2 separate regions of the Homo sapiens genome follow, and region 2 is linked to region 1. Evidence: fine-mapped expression QTL. A gene starts in region 1. The other region holds a variant in brackets. All regions are shown on one strand. Distances are between the middles of the regions.

Region 1 (8,339 bases):
ACCCCTATGGTGTTCCTCAGTTCCTCAGTCTCTGCCCTCCTCCCACACACCCCAGTTTGGGGGTGTTCTCCCCAAGTAGCACCCGTCTCCCCTCAGTCCCAGGCCTGGCACTGCCCCTCACCATGGCTTCCATGCGCGCCCGCCGCTCCTCCTCCTCCTTCCTCCTCCTCATGGCCTCTAGATCCTGCCGGGCCTCTGAGAAGGCCTGCAAGAAGGTATCAAAGATGCCAAAGAATTCGTCTGGCTGCATCTTGCTGTCATGCTCCCCGAAGTGCATCAAGGCCTTGGCGAACTGTCAAGGGACAGAACAGGATTGGTGGAGAGTGCCCTGGAGCATGCTGGGCTCAGCCCCTGAGGTTAGCTGGGTTCTAGCCAGAGCAGAGCCCAGCGCAAGGCTGGGGACTGTTGGCACAGGGGGCAGGGCTGGAAGAGGTGAGAAGACACCCCCATCATCATCAGGATCAGAGACAAGGCTAAGGAGAGGCAGGTAAAGAGTTGGGCTCACTCAGTCCACCTTAGAGCCACCCCTGGGCCTGTAAGGGGTAGGCATGAGGTCAGGGGTATAGACCTTGGGAAGCCCTTCCTGAGGTCAGGAAGAGGCTGGCAGAACTCAGAACTTCAAAGATCCTCTAGTTATGTTAATAACCCCTCTGTGCCTCAGCTTCCTCCACTGTCAAATGGGAATAATAGAATCTACATCATAGTGGTGTTGGGGGGTTAGATGAGTTGGTGGCTATAAAACAGTGGCTATATTTATATAGGCCAGGCACTGTTCTGAGTTACTGAGAGCTACCATTGTTAATTCAACTCACTCAGTATCCTCTAAGAAAGATCTCACTACTCAAAAGTGTGCTTCATGGACTAGCAGCAGATTCACCTCCTGTTAGAAATGCAGAATCTCAGACCCCAGGCCTCCTAAATGAGAATCCATGTTTTAATAAGACCCCCATACATGAGGTCTATGGACACGTTAGTGTGAGAAGCAGATAGAGGCATGGTAATCATGTCCACTGCTGAGCTGTGGTGTCAGATTCTAACCCAGTTCTATAACTTACAGCTGGGCAATCTTGGGCAAGTTACTTAGCATCTCTGATTTTAGCGTTCATATCTGTCAAGTGGGAAATAACCTTTCAACAAACCCATAAGGTAGGTGGTGACAAATCATTAAAACACTTAACATGGTGCCTGATATCTGATAAATGGACCATGATCTTTGCGGTATGTGGTTATCATTGCTTGTCTTGTTAAGAGCGAAGAAACGGTTTTCTCTCAAAGCTCTGTAACTCTGGGTTTGTCCCTCCTGGGCTGTCTGTGGTAGGAATGGGTGAAGGAGCTTGTTTAGATAAGGCTGGGTTGGCAAGCAGTGGGGGTTGGGGCACCCTTACCTTGTCCCTGGCCTCATTTAGCTGGTCCTCCAGCTCGGAGAAGCTGAAGCTGGACACCGTGATGAAGTCGCTCATGACAGGGACAAACTTGTCACTGGGCTCCCGTACCTGGCGCCTCTGATACTCCAGCTCCTGAGGAGGGAGGGTGAAGTGCTGCTTAGACTGGTGCCAAGATGAGAGTCGGGTGCAGGGGTCACCACATCTCCCCTCGTCACTCACAGGACATTGAGCCCTTTGGAAGAGGGAACACCCTGCATCTCAAAGTTCTAAGGATGGCAAAGACTATGAGCTAACATTAGCAGCCAGCCCACCCTGCCATCTTTCTTTCTCTAGAGCACTGAGACCCAACATGTGACCTGGGGCCAGCAGCATCACCTAGGAAATTATGAGAAATACAGACTCTCAGACCCACAGGATCAGAAGCTGCATTTTAACAAGACTCATCTTTACAAGACTCCAGGTGACTCATGCACAAATTAAAGAGACATTTTTCTAAAGCTCCCAGCTGATTCAGAAGCTGCTGGTCCATGTACCGCACTTTGAGTAGCACTTAACAGGACTATAAAATTGTAAATTTGGAAATCATCTTCCCCCACCGTAGTGGCAACAAAACGTTCTTTGTCATCCTTAATCTGTCTCTAAAGTCCATTCTTCCCTTACCCACTGCCTCTCTCCTCAGTGAAGACGGAACGGGTCCCTTCTTCCTAGGTGTGGGGGACAAGACTTAGAGACATCCCCATACTGGGCCAGTCTGGCTCACTTCCCCACTCCTCTACTGGTGTTTTCTGGAAGGCTAGGGCCAGAGATAGTATCAGCCGAGAAGCCATCAGAACGGGAATGGTGGGAACAAAAGACCTGGGTCCTCCACTGGCCCAGGAAACAGGCAGAGAGACATAAGGAAGAACCTTCTGGGTACATCGGTCCCACTGCCACATTGCGTGCTTCCTGCCCCTAGCTGGCAGTCAAGGGATGAGGATTCTTTTTCCCATGCACTTGAATCCAATGTAGGCATGGGTCAGATGTATGGTTCATTCCACTCCACTGCCAAATAGATACCAAGTTGGACAGTAACATGGGTATAGTCTTAGGTAACCCCTTTTAAAAGGCTCAAACTTAAGCCCCAGTAATCCAGTTATCCTTTGGGAGGGCTGACCCTGTGCTAGAGGCTGTACCCATTGTTTTTTGCCCCTGTGTAGGAGCTTAGGGTGCAGTGACGAACAGTGTTTGCTGACAGCAGCCCTCACCCAGGTAGGCACTGACAAGGTACTCACCACCTCCACCGCTCTCAGGCCCCTCCTGAGGTTGCCCACCTCCTTCTCCAGTTCTGCTAGGCTGTAAGGAGACACAGAGGGAAGGGAATGAGGACCATCAACTCCCGCCTTGAGGTGCTAAGGCTGGTTCAGGGAGAGGGCAGAGCCAAGCACAGTGGCCTGGGAGTCGGTGAGCCTGGGTTCCAGCCCTGGTGTGGCCATTGATGTTGGCCCTGACAAAGCACCTCCCCTTCATGCCTCTGTCTGTGCATCAATAAATTAACAAGGTGAAGCCTGCATTCTATAGATCTTTCCAGGTCAGAAATGTCATGCTGCAATATCAGAAGATTTCCAACCTGTGGCCTCTGGCTTAGACCTATTTATTTTTATTACTACCAGGTAATGCTTATAAGCTCTTTATGTGATCCTGCAAGCAATAGCATTCGATACCAGTGAGCCATTTACCACTATGTTTCTAGTTTTCCTGGAGATGACATCTATCAGCCTAGATGTTCGTGTCTGATATCTTGCCTAGCAGATGCTGTTGGTGCCCCACCCACATTTCCTTGGACCATCCATTGTAGGGCATGGCCCCAACTCTTCCAACTGTACGCACACTCTTTTTGAGGCCAAGCTCTTTCCACCTGTACCTGTGGCCAGAGAGTTATTCCCTGCCCCTGCAGAGCCCCTCAGCCAATTACTGAGAGGAGATGCTCTCTGATTGCCCCAGCAACCTTGCCCTTTGGGTGGGAAAACTGAAGTAACTATTCCACACTGTTTCCCAGAATTCCTCATGGGGTTAAGCACCAATTGCCTGTGATTGGTAACTGGCTTAATAATGTTTGTTACTGGCATTCTTTCTATCTCTGGCTCACTTCCCCATTCTTCTACTGGTATTTTCTGGAAGCATCTCTGAAATAAGGATTTAAGAGCAAATTGTCTTTGTTTGGTTTTTCCCAGAAGCAGACCCTGAGACATGGCCCATTCCTACTCAGCCTGAGGCAGGATAGGTAGTCAAGGAAGTGAGCACTTCTCAGAACACAGCAGCTGTGGTGGTGCCCATACAGTCAACACAATAAACCTCAGCATTCGCATTGTAATTGAGCTCATTCAAGCAAAGCTATCTGCAGTAGGGACTTTCCCCTCTGGAAAGCATGCGCATTTTGATTTTACCTATCCTCAGACTGGCCCTTTGCTCATATAATAGTAAAAAAACACACCCCTAGGTGGAGATTTAAGGTGCTAATGAGACATGCGATGTATGAAAAAGCACACACAGCTACTACACATGTGCACCCAGAGGACCACTCAGAGCCTGCTTCCCAATACCTCTTCCCACCTCTTTATGAATAATCGTGTAAGTCTCCCATACTGGGAGTCTTCCTGGTGCCAGTCTTGGCTGTCTCATCCTTACAAGCAGCCCACCCTGAATCCTCTCTCTCTCAGGGTGTACTGTCTATTCTGCACCTAACTCACAAGATATCTTCTTTTGCAATACATTGTTCTATGCTAAACCCCCTTTGCTGTGTGTCTGTTTAAATTCTTTTGAACTCAGAAGACAAGAACCGAGGTCTCACACCAGCCATCATCAAGCCCAGAGTAGACCCCAAAAGAGGAAAGTAAGACAAGAATGAGGGTCATCATGGGGAGAAGGAAGTCTTGGAGAGAACCCTCACTTGACTTTGGCAGCTTCTGGAAGATGTTGCAGCTCTGAAGGCATGTTTAGAATATCAGGAAAATGCTTCTCCAGGATCATGATCAGGTAATGGAGCAGAGAGATGTTTCTGTGGATGAAAGTCAGGTCAGTGGTAAGTGACAGAGGAAACTGGGCACGAGGGTCAGAGGGTCAGAGGATGGAGTGTTAAGAGAAAGGGGTGATGAGTCTTAGGATGTTCCCGTCCTAATAGAGGGAGGATGTGAGAGGCCAGGGTAGGGTGAGATAGAGGCCAAGGAAGTGGCCGGGAAGGGAGGTCCTCACCTGTCGATGCTGGACTTGGTGTCAGCGATCTTGTTGAGGCTGGCCACCCGGAACCCGTAGGCGCCCCCACGCTGCCCTTTGTTCATGAAGTTGCCTATGGCTAGGATGACCTCTAGCATCTGTCTAAGACGCTTGCTGCGGACCAGCTCCCGGGAGGCCAACAGGATGGCTGGGAGAGGAGGCACAGGTCAGAGGCCTGCATGGGCTAGGCAGGGCAGCAGTTCTCATTGCACCCCAGGAAGATGCCACCGCAAAGTTCAGAAAAGGGGCTGTCAAATGCCTTCAACTCTCAGTGAGGCAGAGATTATACCTACTCCTCAGCAGACCCATCGATTTCACATTCACCCACCTCCAGGGGAAGCAGACACATTCACCAAGGCCAATTCACCAGATACCCCATTTGTAGGACGTGCCAGCTCTTCCCAAGAAGACAATTTCAGAAGATCTTTTCTTACATGTATTTAAAGATTATTAAGAAGGCCGGTTGCGGTGGCTCACACCTGTAATCCCAGCACTTTGGGAGGCCGAGGCAGGGAGATCACTTGAGTCAGGAGTTCGAGACCAGCCTGGCCAACGTGGTGAAACCCTGTCTCTACTAAAAATACAAAAAATTAGTCAGGTGTGGTGGTGCATGCCTATAATCCCAGATGCTTGGGAAGCCAAAGCAAAAGAGTCCCTTGAACCCAGGAGGCTGAGGCTGCAGTGAGCCAAGATTGCCTCACTGCACTCCAGCCTGGGCAAGAGCATGAGACTCTGTATCAAAAAGAAAAAAGAAAAAAGAAAAAAAGATTATTCAGATATTCTTTCCATGAATATACTCATGAATATGACACTTTTACTTTTCTAAACCTAGCACTTAACTTCAGCATTTTACCTATTATGGGATTGCTTCTGCCTGTCTTGAAATGCTATATTCTATTGGTTTTTTGGAAAGAAAAAAAATCAATTAAATAACATATTCTAAATTATAATATTCTATTATTTTTGTTCTATAAAATAATGGCATGCTTTTCAGTTGATAGTGTCTAAGATTTGATGAAATAAGCTACTTGACATCCTGTTGAATGTCATTTTTAAGATTTTTCCAACCTTTGGGCATCTTAACCATTTTCCCCCAATGCTCTAAATGTTATCTTTGCCAGAAATACAAACTAAGCTAACAGTAACCAAAACTTCAATAATTCATTCTGCTGTGTATGCTCTGGCCCTTCCTCAGCTATGATGTCTTTATGGTGGGTGTGCAGAAGGGGGACACAAATCCTAAACTGAGATTTTGTCTACTAGTTACGGAATATGATTTTTGAATATTCAGTGTGGCAACAAAAAGACCAGATTATCCTGTGATCTGTGGCTTATGCCAAACTGAACATTCTTTAAGATGCTGCTAGGAAGATAAAATGAAAACGACTTTGCTAAAAGTTTGTAGAAAGCTTCGAACACAGTTAGAAATAAGTAACTGTTAAAAAGAAGCTATACCAGCACTTTGGGAGGCTGAGGCAGGCAGATCACCTGAGGTCAGGCATTCGAGAACAACCTGGGTGACACGGTGAAACCCCATCTCTACTAAAAATACAAAAATTAGCCAGGCGTGGTGGTGCACACCTGTAATCCCAGTTACTTGGGAAGCTGAGACAGGAGAATTGCTTGAACCCAGGAGACAGAGGTTGCAGTGAGCCGAGATCACACCACTGCACTCCAGCCTGGGCGACAGAGTGAGGCTCCGTCTCAAATAAATAAATAAATAAATAAATAAGTAAATAAAGTTGTAAAAATGAATAGTAAGGTTTGTCAGTAGCTTTTAAGTTGAACATGTACATACTCTATAACCTAAAAGCCACATTATTCTTGGTGGGTATTTGGGTTGTTTCTAGGTTTTTTAAATTCCAAATAGAATGGGTAAATTATGGTGTATTCATATAATGGAATAAAATGCAGAACTGAAAATGAATACCCCACTGCTACATGTAACAGCAGGGACAACCCACAACCATAATGTTGAGCAAAAGTCACCAGCCTAAAATTATTCATACTCTATCATTCCTTTCATATAAAGTTCAAAACAGGCCAGGCATGGTAGCTCATGCCTACAATCCCAGCACTTTGGGAGGCCAAGGTGGGCAGATCACTTGGGCCCAGGAGTTTGAGACCAGCCTAGGCAACATGGTGAAACCCTGTCTCTACAAAAATACAAAAATTAGCCAGGCTGGTGGCATGTGCCTGTAGTGCCAGCTACTTGGGAGGCTGAGATGGGAGGATACCTTGAGCCCAGGAGGCAGAGGTTGCAGTGAGCCAAGATCACACCACTGCACTCCAGCCTGGGTGACAGGGCAGGACCCTGTCTCAAAAAGAAAATAGGTAAAAATTTAAAAAATAAAGTTCAAAACCGATAAAACTAAACTAGCAGTCAAGATGGGTTTGACCTTTAGAGAGGAGGGAGGGGGGTAAAGTTTGGGAGGGGGACATGAAGAAGGCTCTGGGGGGTTGGAAGCTGTATTTCTTGACCTGGGTGTTGATTACACATGTGGTTCCCTTTTTTAATTCTTCAAGTAGGACTCTTATGATTTGTGTACTTTTCTATATGCATGTTATGTTTCAAAAATAGTTTATTTAAAAAGAATACTTGGGAAAGTTTCTGGCAATTTATATTGGTTGGGATGTTTTTTCTAAGGTTTATATGCTATTTGGAAAATCTGCAAAGGAATCCTCCTAAAAATGCTAAAATGTTGGCAAAACAGAAAATGACAAGAGTTCAAAGGAAATCAGTGTAAATGGGAAAACGCCCAGATGCAGTTCTGACATTTTAGATATATTCACAAGAATAATATATTCATGAATATATTCATAAGAATATTACATTTGCAACCATATTCATCTTGACTATATTCGGTGAATGTATTTATAATAAGAATCGGTAAATGTGGTATATTCAGCAATATATTCATAAGAAGAATATATTCAAGAATTGTAAGTTCATGAATATATTCATAGAAGAACTGGTAAATTTGTCAAATTTGGTGAACTAGCTTTTGGCAAATGGACTCAGAGCCCCTGCTGGGGATAGGAGGGCAGGTGTCAACAGCTCATCACACCTAGCTGGGATAGGCTAAATCTTAGCTCTTCCAGGAATACTTCCTGGGAGAACTGGAAGGAAGAATAAGAATCCCATCTTTGCACAATCCTCTTTTCTCCACTTATAGTCACACACACTGATCTGATTCTATAATACACAACTTTAGGCATATCTTTCCTATCTAGCTCTTAGAGGAAAGAGACTTATGTCTGGTCTATACAAGGACAGCAGCCATTGCTATACAGAGCAATTATTATAGAGCAGAGCTATAGAAGAGTAGCTTTCCCCAGCAGATCTTGCTATCCCAAACACATCTTACTCGGCTTAGCTTGATATCAAATGGAGACTCTTTCCTGAATATCCACTGACTAATTCTTTTTTTTTTTCTTTTTTGAGATGGAGTCATGCTCTGTTGCCCAGGCTGGAGTGCAGTGGTTCCATGTCGGCTCACTGCCAGCTCCGCCTCCTGGGTTCATGCCATTCTCCTGCCTCAGCCTCCTGAATAGCTGGGACTACAGGTGCCCACCTCCATGCCCGGCTAATTTTTTTGTATTTTTTAGTAGACACGAGGTTTCACCGTGTTAGCCAGAGTGGTCTCAATCTCCTGACCTTGTGATCCGCCCGCCTTGGCCTCCCAAAGTGCTGGGATTATAGGC
Region 2 (8,339 bases), 66 kb before region 1:
TCCACTGCCAGGTGGGGCTGGAAGTCCAGGTTTCCCACTTGGCCTTTATTAACACCTGAGAGAGAGAACTCCTTGTTACTGCTGGGCAGGGGTGCAAGTTCCAGCCCCCATCTAGGCCTCCCTGGTTGAGGGGAGGGGTAGGAGTGTCTCATGAGTGTTCTCCAAATAGCCTCCACTGACACCATAGGGGTAGAGGGTAGCCTCATTATGGCTGGCTGGTGGCGAAAGGCCCAGCCCTCTCCACAGGCTTCCTGACACCCACCCTCCAGCAGGAGGGGAGAGATGTCTTATTACTGCCAAGGGGCCATGGAAATCGAGGCTCCCATGTGGGTGCAGTGTGCCTGGTACTGCCAGGAAGGATGAATATTCTCACTTGGCCTTCTTTGATACCAGTTTTTGGAGGACAGGAGATTTTGGTGCTTCCTTACAGTCTGGCCAAGTCTCCCCACTTGGCCTCTGCTGGCCTGGGGACGACCAAAACTCTGCTTTAGCCAATGGAATGTGGGTAAATTTGATAGGAGCAGGAGACTTGAATATGTTAGCGCAGTTTTGTTTAATCTTTTTTTTTTTTTTTTGAGATGGAGTCTTGCTGTCACCCAGGCTGATGTGCAGTGGCACAATCCAGGTTCAGTGCAACCTCCGCCTCCCAGGTTCAAGTGATTCTACTGTCTCAGCCTCCCAGGTAGCTGGGATTACAGGCACGTGCCACTATGCCCAACTGTTTTTGTATTTTTTTAGTAGAGATGGGGTTTTGCCATTTTGACCAGGCTGGTCTCAAACTCCTGACCTCAGGTGTTCCGATGCCTGCATCTGCCCCCCAGAGTGCTGGGATTACAGGTGTGAGCCACCGAACCCGGCCTAGTTTAATCTGTTGCTTGCCTGCCATTCACTAAGGGAAGAACGTGCTCCAGGTTTAAGGACCTGAACACAACCTGCAACTTGGAGGCTGAAGCCCAGATTTTAGCCTATCCCAGCTGACTCATACACCCTGCAGTAAGAAATCAATGCTTGTTGTTTAAATGCTGAGTTTTGGTGGTCCTGAGGCCAGCAGAGGCCAAGTGGGAAGCCTTGGCCTTGATAGTGAAGCCCTTTTTCAGGGGGGCAGGGAACTATATCTGCCCAGTAACTTTACAGTATCTTTCCATTGTACGTAGAGGATGTGGATGTATAATCCTATTGTAGGAGAGTAAAAAAAAACTGAGTCCAATGCAAGATATTACAATTAATTGCTGATCTTATCTTTATTGTCCTCCATTTAGTTACTTTGGACCCTGTTCTTTTTCTAATTTCTTGAGTTAGATGATTAACTCATAAATTTTCAGACTTCTTTGAGTATATGAGGCTGTAAATTTCTGTAAAGGTAGCTTTAGCTGTACCGCATGAGTTTTGATACATAGATTTTCATTATTATTCAGTTGAAATGTTTCTTTATATCTCTTACAATATTGTCTTTGACCCAAAAACTACATGTTTGAAAATTTCCAAATGTATTTTTATGTTTTTGTTACTGCTTTCTAAGTTAATTATACTGTGGTCAGATAATACAATCTGTATGATATTGATTCTTTCAGTATTTGTAAGGTTGGTTTTATGTCTTAATATGTGGCTAATTTTCATAAATGTTCCATGTGTAAGAGTATATATATTTTTAATTTGTGATATAGGGTTTATTACATGTTCATTATATAATAGTCATTATGTTAACATCTGCTAAACATTTATTAATTTTTTATTTATTTGATCTGTCAATACTAGATTGTTTTGGAGTTACCTGGAGTTGACCTTTTCCTTGCACTTCTCTTTGTTTTCTATGTTCTTAGGCTGTTTCTATGTTTCCTTGTACTTCTTTTTGCTTTCTATGTTTTTAGGCTGTTTTAGGTACATAATATTTAGAAATGTCACATCTTCCTTAGGAATTGAAATTTTACAACCATGGAGAAGCTCTCCTTAAAGCAAAAAAGCATTTCTAGAGGTATTTTGAGATACCTACACCAGCTTTTTAGTTAATATTTGCCTGATATTATCTTTTTTCCATTCTTCTATGTGTGACCTTTGTGTTCTTTCATGTTTGAAGTATCTCTTAATGATGGCATAGAGCTAATCTTAAAAATATAATCCAGTTGGACAATCTGACCTTTCAAATGACTTAGCCCCTTTATATAATGATTATTGAATACTTTTATATTTCTAGAATCTTTCTGGTGCTGCCAAAAGATATACATTTTCCCCATGTTGCAATATCTTTGAAATTAAAGTGTTTCTTACAATTCATGTTGTAGTTAGCAGCTTTTTTTAACTTAGTAGCATGTAAAATTTAAGTACATTTTACAACTGATGTCATCCTAGATTTCTTAGATTCTAAGAAATACAATATTTACTCAGATTTTCTTAACTTTCTCTTCCCCTTCCACCCCTTTTATCTTTATTGACTTAAGGTTTTTCATTTCCTTTTTTCCCTTATACCTGGAATTTTCACATCCTGTCTGTATCGTTTTAGTGATTACTCTTAAAATTGTAGCAAGCATGCTTTAGTTAAATTCTAAAGGTAATCGGTGTCTTATTCAGATTCTTCTAGAAGCTGCCCTTGAGACAAGAACTTGAGTACAGGCATTTGGAAGTAAAATCAGGAAGCACAAGTGAATGAATGGGACAGTGAGATGGGGAAGAGAGAGAAGCCAATACGGGAAGCCCTCATGGGCAGGTAACTGTTGTGGATAACATGCTCAAACCCTCTGAATAAGCAAATGGAATGTGTCTGACAATTTTCCCGCCAGGGGATAAGGAGGTCAGGACATTTATCTGACTCCTCTATTGGTTGAACGTTATCCATGGGTGTTAACTTCCCTAAACTTCCAGGTTACAGGTGCTTAAGGCAGAGCACGTTTCTGTGGTTCAGGAGAAGGACATTGGGCATGGGAGAGAGACATGTGCTTCAGCAGGAGCTGTCAGCCTGTTGAAAACTGTCTACCACAGTTGCAAATGAACTTGGGTGGGCAGAAAGGATACTGGGGAAACCGGTATCAACAGTGCCTGCTACGATTAGTATATTTCTAATCTCCTCCTGCCGATTGCCAAAACCTTGAACTTTTCATTTCAATTACCAATTCTACTTCATATATTAATCAGTACATATTTTATTTCCACTATTTTGTATACCTCCTAAAACAATGATTATTTGTATTATTTCAAACAATGGTCATTTAGTTTTACCCATATGTTAATCAGTTTCCTTGCTCACCTTTCCTTCTTGAGAATCTCACTTCTTTTTTTGGGGGGTTTAATTTTTCTTCCTTTAGTTATGTTTTCCTCACCATCTGAACTTTCTGGTTCCTAGGTTTGGATAATGAATTTGGATACTGAGACTGTAAAGTATATCATGTTATGCAAGTCTATTTCGTTCCTGCATTTTAGATAGCAAATAGCAAGTGTTTTCATAGAGTGGAATTTATGTAGTTTAACTTTTTTTTTTCCAGAAACAGTCTGTTAGGGAATTTAGTCTTTGTCTTTGTGAAAATGACTTTTTTCTCAGTCCTGAATGATAGTTTGACTAGGCATAAAATTGTAGGTTCATTCTTACCTTCTCTCAGCACTTAAAAGATACAAGGTGACCTCAAAATTTCATGGAAACTGGAATTAAAAGATAAAAATAAAGCATTTTATTTCTCAACATAAACTCTATCAGTTCAAGACACTTTTGAAAGCAATGATACCAGCCATTTAGTCCATCCATAAAGAACTGAGGGTCTTGGGAATTTAACACATCAGTGCAACCTTTTTTACATTATTAGGTGAAGAAAAATGGGTGCCCTTTAAAGATTTTATAAGATGAGGAAACAAATAGTAATCAGAAGGAGCCAAATCAGAACTGTAAGGTGGATGCCTAATTTTCCATCAAATCTCATGAAATTGCCCTTGTTTAAGAGGAATAAGCAGGAGCATTGTCGTAGTGAAAGACTCTCTAGCAGTCTTCCTGAGTATTTTTCTCATAAAGCTTGGCTTTCTCAAAACACTCATAATAAACAGATGATATCATTCTTCAGCCCTCCAGAAAGTAAACAAGAAAAATGCCTTGAGCATTCCAAGAAACTTTTGCCACGATCTTTGCTCTTCACTGGTCTGCTTTTGCTTTGACTAGGCCACTTCCACCTCTTGGTAGCCATTGCTTCTGATTCCATTTCAATGTGTCTAATGTATACCTACTTTTATTTATACCATTCAGGGGTGTTGTGACCATAGAGCTAGGTAAAGAAAAGAGAGAAGCAGAGTCTACCAATACCAGACTCTTGGTAGCCACGAAAAATACGTAGTTTAGTCAAGTAGTGATGACATTAGGGAACAAAATCAGCTGAAATTTGGTTGGAGATTGTAGAATTCAGATGATTCAAATCAAGTAATAAAACTGAAAGATTACAAAAAGTATTGTGTGATGGTGTATAACTGAAACAGTAGGTACCAACCCTACCTGAAAGGTCCTTAACAATCTAGAGATTATTAAAACTGGACTCAGTACATCCATCTGTGATGCATGAAGCCACACTTGACACAGGCA[C/G]TTCCAAGTCTGGTATCCCTGTGCCAAATGTCTCTATGTCTCTGTCCAGTTGCAAATCCAACTTGCCTTGGGTGATAATCACATCATGAATTGTCTCAGTAACCTAAAATAACACTGAACTTTAGTGGGTTAAGTGTCTTTTAACCCCAGGAATATAGAAATTATGAAGTGCATCAAACCCATGACATTAGTTTATGTTACAGTCAAGATAATCTGAGTGGTGGGTATATAAAATGCTGGTAAAATATAATTGAATGTGGCATATTAAAGTAAATGACAAATTGACCTGTCATTCCAAATTAAATGTGCATTGGATTTGAGGTTGGATGGTATAAGAGGAAGTGACTTAACTTATAAAGAGTGTTAGGATAGTTAAAAGAACTGTAGCTGCTTAATAATGAGGGAAGGATTCGTTTGTTAGGTCATGAGTTTGTTGAGTTTAGACTTCTAATTTCTTAAAGAAAATGGAATATATTAAATTTATAAATGTTAAAGTGCTTACAGAAAACTAGTCTGTTCAATTCAGGTTTACTTAACATTAATCAAAATCAAACTCCCTTAAGTAATCAGTCCAATTTAATAAGGCTCCCTGAAAATAATTATTTTATATAAAACTTACTGGGTTTAAAACAGTATAATACAATTTATAAGATAAATTTAGAGGTTTAGGGAAAACTGTTTACATTTACAATTTTAGTAAACAAAACTTTATTTTTAGTTATTTGGGTTTGATTTTTAATCTATGTGCACAAAACCTGCCCTTGGACTTAAAAAAATTCTCACATAGAAACTGAATCTAAGGATTCATATTCTTTACCGATGTAGTCTCTTGCTGATTCTCTCTAATCTCACCTTCTGAAATTTGTACTGAATATAAATTGAACCTTTTCACTCTATCTCTCATGCCTCTCATTTTTTAATGTTTCCTTACCCAAAATGTAGCACAGAGAAATCACTTCTTTTCCAGTTCCCAATTCTATCTTCATCTGGATCTGATTAATCTTTCCACTGGGAATTTTTCCTTAATTTCAATGGCTCTATTCTCATTTCACATCAGACACAAACCTTGTGTACTTTCTCAGAGCCAAACTGCCTCCCTTGTTCTCAAAATTCCTCCTATTTGCGATAACTCCCTGGAGTAAACAGGCGCACTGCCGCCTCTACTCGGCTTCCCAGACTGGCTGGGGGCCTGAGATTGAACGGACCTCACATCTCACATGCCATGCCTGTCTGCAACAAGTCATTCCTCCACTTATGGACATAGGATCTGGCTTTCTGAGTGACATCAAAGGATGAATAATGCAATAATTATGAGTTAGGTCTCCATGGTGTGAAATTTGAGCAATGGGAAATGAGAAACAGGAAGGAGCTGGGCAGAGAAATTCCCCCTTCTTTTCTCCCTTCTAATCAGAGGTGGTGCTTCTTTTTTAAAACTTTCCAGAAAGGTACTGTGTGCTAAGCAAATATACCTTCTATGTGACTAGCTGTGTTTCTTCATGGCTTCTCAAGAACCAGTGGCTAGTGCAGTAATGCCTCATATTACATTGCTTCACATCTTTCTTTGCCCCACTTCCCCCTTTTCTCCCTCACTTTCATGTCACTGGGCTTGTAATTTCTAAATAAAATATCTCCATCTTCATCCTTGTCTCAAGCTCTGCTTTCTAGAGAACTTAAACTAAGAGAGTCTTTAACACTTTTATTTGATTTTGATAATTTAGCCTTCTCTTATATTTAAAAAAAACTATTAATGTAACTTCCAGCCAGAGAGAGTAAAAGATGCTTAATGATATTGATTCCCTGTGGAATACTATGCAGTCATAAAAAAGAACAAGGTCATGTTCTTTGCAGAGACATGGATGGAGCTGCAGGCCATTATTCTTAGCAAACTAACACAGGAACAGAAAACCAAACGCTGCATGTTCTCACAAGTGGGAGCTAAATGATAAGAACACATGGACACATAGAGGGAAACAACACACACTGGGGCCTATCAGAGGGTGGAGTGTGGGAGGAGAGAGGGGATCAGGAAAAAATAATAGGTACTAGGCTTCATACCTGGGTGAAATAATCTGTGCAAAAAAACCCCATGACACAAGTTTACCTGTGTAACAAATCTGCCCATGTACCACTTAACTTAAAATTTTAAAAAATGCTTACAATTACTATCTTTTAAATTTGAGACTATAATCCCACTTTTAATACTGACAACTCTCACTCATGGTGAATTCTTTTCTTATGTGTTTTGTGATTGTGGATTGTGAGTTCACCTTTAGCAGGGCTGTATTGAAGGGAACTCTGAGAAACCTTAGATAAGGTTTTGTCCCTCCAGAGAGGACTTACATTCTCTTTGTTACAGATATTACCAGCTTGGGAGTTCTCAGCCACATAAGAGATCTAAATGTGAAACTCTGCCTTCAGGGAGAGCAGGTGTCTGGGGGAATCCTATCCCTTTATTCAAATACAAGTAAAAACAGACAAGCTTCCTTGATATCCCTCTTTGCTGAAGGGTTGATCTTGTTTTTAGTTGCTGCCCTTCTTCTGAAAATATAGTAGTAGTTCTTTGATAGTTTTCGGCTTCATGTGCAAAGCCTCCATCATGGTCTCTGAGGTAGACAAACCTAAGGACAGCTACAATGTGAACTGAAGAATACTTCTGGTTTTCAATTCTCTATTCATTTTTGCTCCAGGATTTATGTTATTATAAGCTCAGCTATGCATTTAGAAGATTATTTTCTGTATTTAATCATACTTTCATGGTATTTTATAATGAAAAGGTTTTTGGATTATCTAATCTGCTACAATGCTACAGCATTTCTGTAATACTAGAAATGTAAGATGGGGTCTATCTTTAACAATCAAAATGGACTGAGTTATTACTATTTCTCAAGTATGACTATTACCATATTAAATGAATTAACTCATCTTCTCAACTCTGTGAGGTGTAGGTACTACTGTCTCCACTGTGTTAATCTGGGTCCTCCAAGACAAAGGTGACAAGACCAGAATAAATGTGCAAGTATGTTCAGGGAAATGCCTTTGAAAAAGAAATGGGAGAAAGAGGGTAAAGGCTGGGAGAATCATGTCATAACCCAAGATTGACTCTGAGTGAAGGAGAAAGGGAGAAAAGGCTGGGTAGAAATGTCTTAGACTACACAGCAGTTTCGGAAATGTTCAGCAAAGCCTTTGGAGAGTCTTTGAGCCACAGTTGGTTAAGAAAGGAGTCCCGTGTCTTTCGGGAATAGATGTACCTTAGTACCCCTGCCATTTTCAGTCATTAGTGGGGAGCAGCCCGGAAGAGATGTGACCCTGGCACACATGCTATGATGGATTCCAAACTGTAGCAACTGGGACCCTTGGCTAGTTATGTGCTCTGCACTAGAAGGTCTGCCAGGTGCATTTTCATGCCACCACACCCACTCTGTGCATGAGTAAACAAACACAAAGAGGTTGACCAGCATGCTCAAGAACACACAGCTGGCACGTAGTGGAAACAGGATTCCAACTTGGGTACTTTGACTCTGGGACACAACTTCTTAACAACTATGTCATGCTTTTTTGTTGTTAAATAAGATTTTATTGCATTGAAAATTCACATTCTTTGTACAGAAAGAATATTAAGTTAAACAATTGTGCATATTGTTTGTATTCTTCCAGGGTGAAAGTTATAAATTAATTGGATTCATGGGCCTGTACAAGAGGGAAAAACACACTTAAAAAGGCCTTAAGTGCTTTTTTCTTCTTTCCGGCTTTCAAGATGTTGAAGCGAGGACGTGGTGGGTCCTCTGGTGTG

The links. PIP is the estimated chance that this variant, and not a neighbour inherited with it, causes the effect.
Region 2: its variant is fine-mapped to the expression of DAAM2-AS1 in lung (TOPMed, PIP above 0.99).

The regions. Positions count from the first base shown.
Region 1 is chr6:39,893,255-39,901,593 of GRCh38, reverse strand. It overlaps DAAM2-AS1 (DAAM2 antisense RNA 1), which reads left to right and starts at 4,214. Exons shown (of 4, transcript NR_125831.1): 1 at 4,214-4,397. It overlaps DAAM2 (dishevelled associated activator of morphogenesis 2), which reads right to left. Exons shown (of 25, transcript NM_001201427.2): 20 at 4,614-4,782; 21 at 4,312-4,419; 22 at 2,657-2,717; 23 at 1,386-1,517; 24 at 122-292. RefSeq lists enhancers at 3,479-3,995, 4,296-4,795.
Region 2 is chr6:39,958,798-39,967,136 of GRCh38, reverse strand. LOC102723789 (a long non-coding RNA gene) reads right to left here. Exons shown (of 6, transcript XR_001744112.1): 4 at 3,578-3,627. It also overlaps the pseudogene RPL23P6. Among named protein-coding and RNA genes, the nearest start is that of MOCS1, 29 kb to the right of the region's middle. The variant C/G (reference allele first, on the strand shown) is at 4,550.